Linked DNA regions of Homo sapiens. The protein of the gene in region 2 purifies or fractionates together with the protein of the main gene of each other region. This does not show direct contact. Each region holds a gene or a part of one and is shown on either strand. Other genes may lie near its edges.

The links. Proteins that work in one complex are often made in the same cells at the same time.
Region 1: the proteins of STX17 (region 2) and ANXA3 purify together in Homo sapiens (affinity purification with mass spectrometry; one large-scale study listed by BioGRID and IntAct). This does not show direct contact.

The regions. Positions count from the first base shown.
Region 1 is NC_000004.12:78,607,270-78,610,769, reverse strand, and holds the end of ANXA3 (annexin A3), read right to left. Parts: intron 715-3,500; coding exon 655-714; 3' UTR 323-654; downstream 1-322. UniProt on the Homo sapiens protein: Inhibitor of phospholipase A2, also possesses anti-coagulant properties. Also cleaves the cyclic bond of inositol 1,2-cyclic phosphate to form inositol 1-phosphate.
Region 2 is NC_000009.12:99,958,654-99,962,153, reverse strand, and holds part of STX17 (syntaxin-17), read right to left. Parts: intron 2,238-3,500; coding exon 2,122-2,237; intron 2,050-2,121; coding exon 1,999-2,049; intron 1-1,998. UniProt on the Homo sapiens protein: SNAREs, soluble N-ethylmaleimide-sensitive factor-attachment protein receptors, are essential proteins for fusion of cellular membranes.

The sequences.
Region 1 (3,500 bases), on a different chromosome or scaffold from region 2:
GTAGTATTTAGCATGAAGCAACCATAATTCATGCTTGCCATTCAGACAGGAAGTGGTTAGATTAATCCTTCAGCAGATGTTTTCTGAAAGCTGAAATAACTTATCATGCATTACCACTCCTATAGCTTGATCACAACTACAAAGGGTAGGCCAGGGTCACATACATCTTCATCTTATTCCTTTCTTTCAAAAAAGTGTGATTAACAAGGTGATAAACTGAAGCAGTAACAGCTTCTATACAGAAACATGTTTTAAAATATTAGTTGTTGGCACCAGGCATCAAACAATGTTGGCAAGCTCTGAAAGCAAACAAAGAAATTACTTTTAACAAAAGCAACAATTTTTATTATCTTGCTTTATATTTAATGGAGTAGAACTATAAAGATTCTTAACTTTGAAAGCAGAAATATAAGTTGGATAGTAGTTGCAGATCTTTAATACCATTTTCAATTTCATTTATGAGCTGCTACATTATAAATGAGATGCTCTAAAATAATAATCGCTTTTGTTGTTGTTGTTATAGAACAATGAAAATTCCTGTTAGGAACACAAGTTGCTGTTTATATTTGCTTGTTCTCTTAAATAGTATGAGAAGAAGTAAGGTGGAGCTGTTGGGAAAGCCCATCGTGGACCTTTGGAGATTATCTTCTTGGTTCAGTCATCTCCACCACAGATTTTTAAGAGTGTGATTTCATAGTCTCCAGAAGTATCCGACTGCAAAGAATAAAATCAATGAAGAACAAATACAGTATAAATAATGGGAGACCATAAATGAATCAAATCCTATAGCACTAGGGAATTCACCTGGGTGTGAGACTCATGAGCTATACCATTTAGTAAAACATACCTGCAATTCCATCATTCATTCATACCTGAGTGTAATTACGTTCTGACCAGCATCTTCTTCACTGTAAGTAATATTTAGATTCTTCCTGATATACTGCAGTTAAATTTCAATTTTGGTTTAATAAAATAAGATTGCATCACTTACATAATATTGATTTCTATAAAAACTTCAAATTTTAGTTTTAATAATATTTATCGAACACTTGCTATTCAAAAGGCTTAATGTGTATTAACTACTTTAACCCTTTTAAAAGCTCTCTGCAATAGGTACTATACGTATCCCCCATTTAACAGATAAGTAAAATGAGAAAGACAGGTTAGGAAACTTGCCTCAAATCTTATCGAGAATAAGTGACAAAAGCAGGATTTGAATCCCTATATCCTGGCTCCTTAATACCCTGCTACACTGCCTAACTTAGGAAAGTGAAATGAACCACATTTTTAAAGAATATGTTTATCAGTTCCTTTTCCCAAGGCCAACCAAAAATAGACTGTTGTCCAGAAAAGATACTACGTGAGGTTGAGGCTTAAAGGGCAAAGATACCAAGTTTGTAACGCAAAAGACTTCACAGGAGGTAAAACTTGGCTTTCAACCTGGATTGTGTAAGATGCTCACATTATTTTTATTTTATTTGAGGTAACCCAACCAGTGAGCTCTTCTTATCACTTAAGTTTCACATTTGGAATGGCTGTTACTGGGGTGAATATTAGAGAAAGTGGTAATATAAAGGAAGTCTCAGAGAAGGCTCATTTAGTGAAGAAGTTAAGCATTACTTTCATAGTAAGACACAATAGGCCTTTATATATATTTTTCTGTTTTCTTTATTTCTTGTTCATTTGTCTGTTTCACAAAATATATGACAATATTCTTCGTTTTTATATAGATTTTAGTTCTTATGCTATTGGTTTTCCTGTCTTGCTCTGCAATAGCAGAGCTGACAAGTCAACAATGCTCCAGCTTTGTATTAAAAGAGCTCCTTCTAGACATCTCTGATCAGAGTTGTAAACAATTAGGCGTTCTACCAGTTAGTCAAGAAAATACATCCAAGTAACTCAAAGTATATTTACACCGCTAATGACTTACTTGACCTCTCCACATGTCTTACATGGCTCAAAGACATCTCAAACTCAATACATGTAAAACCAAACTCATAAACCTCCCCCCACTCCCCCAAAAGAAAAGGAAACAAACAAACAAACAAACAACCTAAAACCTGATCCTCTTGCAAGGAATGGCGCCACTGTCTGTTTTCCAAGTTAGGAACTTGAGTGTCATCCTTGCTATCTTCCTTTCCTCACACCAAGATATTATACCAAGTCCCTTAAGTTTCAACTCCTAAATATCTTTTGAGCCCTTCTTATTCTCCAGAATAAGAAGATCTTACAGGGATCTTTTCATGATCCTGATACTAACTCTTCAAGAGCTCATGCCCAGAACTCTTCAATGGCTTCCCCTTACTCTTAAGCTAAAGCCAAAATTCCTTAAACATTGCCAAAAAGGTCCTGCATGATCTGGCCCCCACATCCTCATTTTTCATTATGCTTCCTCCACCATGAGGCCTTTCCATTTGTCATTTCTTTTATTAGAATGTTCTACTGGCTCCCTTACCTCCATACATTTTGCCTTATTAATATCTACTTATTTTCCAGATCTGAATCATGACTTTCTCATAGAAGCCTTTCCTCTAAGTCAAGTCCTACTATTGTAGGATCTTTTAGCACAATGTCACTTTCCTTTACATTTAACATAGTTGTAATTCCATAAGGGCAGAAAATGTCTTCCCCCACCCTACCCCCTTTGCTTATAATTGTAACCCTGAGCCTAGCACATAATATGCATTTGATAATATTTTTAATTGAATGAGTGAATTCGCTGATCTCAAAGCTCTCTTTCAACTGAACTCATCTTGCTACTTGGATTTTATTTCTCAATATTCCCCAAGGTAGACCCTCTAATCAAACAAATGCCTTATTACTTCTTTCCCTCTTGCTTCTTCCCATATCTGTCTCTAGAGCATTTACTTTTAAGACCCTATTGATCTGGGGTCTTAAAGGTAAATGCTCCAGCAGAGCACCTGGCCCACAGGAGACACTCAACACATGCTTGTTGACCTGAAAGGCAGGCTCAAGACCCATTTCTCTAACCCCAAACTTCTTTTCTTCTCAATTCCGATAGTACTAGCTCTATATTCAACAATCTAGTATTTAATTGTCTGTTGTTTCAATTATTATCTTCTAATTGTTTCTTCATACCTACCTCAAGTCTCCACATAGATTATGAGTTGATTGTGAGTGGCTACTATATTTTCCCATAAAAAGCTTGGAATTGTGCTATTTATTAAATAAATACAGAATTTGTCTATGAAGGAAAACTACCAAAAAATATAATTTCATCTAAATTTTCCATAATATCTTCTTATAAAGTAGTAAGAGGTACACATTGGTTTTTCACCTCTGTTCTTCCTTGCCTTCTCCTTCCCACCGGTTACCCCCTGAGAAAGGTGTCAATGGACAAAGAAATGTCTAAACAATAGGTGGAAGGAAGAAAACAGGCAGGATGACAGGCTGAGATGATATGCAAAATGGAACTCTATCCCATGAATTTCAGAAACAACCATCTAAAAAGATCCTGTTCTTCAATAGCAAAAATGTAA
Region 2 (3,500 bases):
TAGTAAGAAGCCAGTATTGAGAAGCCTAGAAATTATATTGTAGAAGGAATGCAAAAGAAGCAAGGGTTCTGAAGAGAAGAAAATATGGTGGGGTGGGATAGAGTGAGGAAAGATGATGGTTTCAAAACCTTGAAAGACTTTCATATGGAAAGAAGGCAAAATTTGTTCAGTACGTAGCTTTAGAGGCCAAAAATGCCAAAAAGAAGTTATTATAGGGCAGACACTTTTAACTCTAACCCTTCTAAGAGTTAGACCCTCCAAATGCAATAGTTTAAGTATCAATATCCTTGTGCTGTAATTGTTCCAAAAGAGGCTAAAAGACCATTTATTTTAGAAATTGGGGCAAGAGTAGAGGGATTAGATTAGTTGGCCTCTTGAGTCCTTTCTCATTCCAATTCTGATTGTGTGATCTAGGAACTTCTCATTTAAAATTAGATCTCAGGGAAACCGTAACTCAAAGATAACCCCAAAATCATGGTTAGATCAGAAACAAAGAACTAAACCTAGACAGAACTGCAAGCAGAAACAGGTATGCCTGTGTGGACACACATACATAAATATACATACACACGTATTCATACATCCTACCTTCCCATAACTCCTGAGAAAGACAAAAAGAACAATTTAGAAAAATGGTGGAAAATCTATCTTTCCCAACAAATTGACTTTGTGCTTCCTAATCTATGTTAACAGTATCACTGACACCCAATTATGCAGAATAAAGACAATGTTCCTTATCTTTGGCTCCATCTTCCTCCAATTTCTGTTAAGTCCCCCAGAAATATCTCTCAGCTGTCCTTTACCTTTACACTGGTATTGCCATTGCTCCAGGTGAACTCTTGCAATTGATTCCTAACCAGTCTTCCTTTCCATGACCTCCTCCTCTCTTAGGCCATTATTCACAAAGCCAACAGTGATCTTTCTGAAGCACAGACTGAATTGCATGACTCTAACCTGCTCAAGAATCAGTATTAGGCTTTCTAATGCCCACAAAGTAAAGTTCAAATTCTTTAGCATGGCATTCAAAGCCATCACAATCTGGCCCTCACCCTCCTTGCTTGCCCATGGTACCTTATGCTTTGGTTATACTGCAGTACTTGTCAATCTGGAACAGGCCATACACTTCTCTACTCCATGTCTTTGTTCAGCTTCTCAAATATACTCCATAACTTCCCCCAGTGGATATTTACTCATTTTTCAAGGCTCATACAAATACTGTCTACCTGTGTGAAGCTATCCTTAATGCTTCTTTCTACCTTATGACTCCTGCCTCCTTCCTTTGGAATTAAATGCTTTTCCTTGGAGCTGATAATACCTCTCTTCATTCTTGCTTTTGCATTTAGCCATCATGCTTGAAAGCTCAGTTTCTGGGGTCCAGGCCTATCTCCACTCACTGTAGAATGCTCAAAGGCAGCAGGGCGTGGTGGCTCATGCCTGTAATCCCAGAACTTTGGGAGGCTGAGGCGGGTGGATCATGAGGTCAGGAGTTTGAGACCAGCCTGACCAACATGGTGAAACCCCGTCTTCACTAAAAATACAAAAACTAGCTGGGCATGGTGGCACGTGCCTGTAATCCCAGCTACTCAGGAGGCTGAGGGAGGCAAATCGCTTGAATCTGGGAGGCGGAGGTTGCAGTGAGCCAAGACTGTGCCACTGCATTCCAGCCTGGGCGACAGAGTGAGACTCCGTCTCAAAAAAAAAAAACACAAAAAACAAGAATCTTCAAAGGCAGAGAATGGGCTTCATTTATTTCTATATCCAACCTGACCACACTCTCAATGTTAAGCATCTAACACACTGCTTGTATATAACAAGTGCTTAATAAAAGTTTCTTGAATTAATCTGGAATTTGAGAACAGTTAAACTTCTATCTATGGCTTAATACCAGTCTTAAAAATTATAAGTTCTATTAAAATTCTAATTAAAAGCCTAGTGATTATAAAAGCTTCTCATTCTAATAATCCAACAATTCTGCATCCAAAACAGTTATATACTTACATTCACTAGGAGAGAGAAGTCAGTGACCAGTTGGCTAAGTTCAATTAAGTCCTTTAAAAGAAAGGGAGAGGAAGTTACTTTTATGCCTCACAACTACCAAAAAGAAAACATTTTTTAACATACCGCTTCTAAGGTTTCCCACGATTCTGCAGCATTTTGATCTTGAGGAATTTCAGGTAAGGCATATATCTGAGTCAAACTCTGAGAACTAGCTTCAGCTTCAGTAGTATGAAATGCTCCTGGATGAACATAATAACCCCATGTTTAGAGTTTATTTGCTTTGTTAGAAAAGAGACAGCATAAATTGATTTCATAAAACAAATGCCACGTTAAATGGTGTCTAATTAAATTTAGGCTAAAAGGAAATTGATTATTCTACAAAAATAGAATTGTTTGGCTGGGTGCAGTGGCTCACACCTATAATCTCAGCACTTTGGCAGGCTGAGGCGGGAGGACTGCCTGGGCCCAGGAGTTCAAGACCCGTCTGGGCAACAGAGTGAGACCTCGTCTCTACAAAGAAATTAAAAAGTTAGCCAGGTGTAGTGGCACACACCTGTAGTCCCAGCTACTTGGGAGGCTGAGGTGGGGGGATCACTTCAGCCTGGGAGGTCGAGGTTGCAGTGAGCAGTGATCACGCCGCTGCACTCCAGCCTAGGTGAACAGAGCAAGATCCTGCCTCAAAAAAAAAAAAAAAAAAAAGATTTATCCATAGGGTAGCTTGTTCCCCAGATTAGTTAACACATTTTTTTTTTCTAAAATTTTTTTTTTTGTTTTTAATTGACACACAGTCTTGCTATGTTGCCCAGGCTGGTCTTGAACTCCCGGCCTCAACTGATCCTCCTGCCTCAGCTTCCCAAAATGCTAGAATTACAGGCGTAAGCCATGACACCAAGCTTACACACATATTTTTTTAATCTACACAGTCATTTAAAAAATGGCTACAAATACTATCTATCCAATCTGAATAACTAGGGCTAAATGTGGAAGAAGCACCAAAAGAAAACTATTCTACTTGGCCAATGTTCCAAGGAGACGTACCTATATAAATAGGTTTAATATTTTTCATCCTTAAACTTCTATTTGGCTATTTCAATGTAAATACCAGATACAGAAGGTGTTGAAAGCAGGGAAGTAATATATTTTTATTAATGATAATCAGTCACTATTGGTAATAATAAGATTGTCACCAAACATTACCATATGTGTCTTTTTTGTCACTACTCTTCTCCTCAATCTTCTGGCCCATGACTCCATTGCTTCTACTTCTTTTGAGTTTTAAAAAGTTGTCAACCCAGTAGGACTTTCCCCATTAAACACTGCTATGATGATGAATTAATTCACACTTTAAAATCTACCTTCAAGTCTTTATTTCCTCATATTGGTTTTACCAATCATTCATTCATTGAGTTGACATTTATTAAATGCCTACTACCTGCTGATCAGTGTGCTGAGGTGCTGCAGACACAATGGCAAACCATAAAAACAGTTCGGAGGAGGCAACA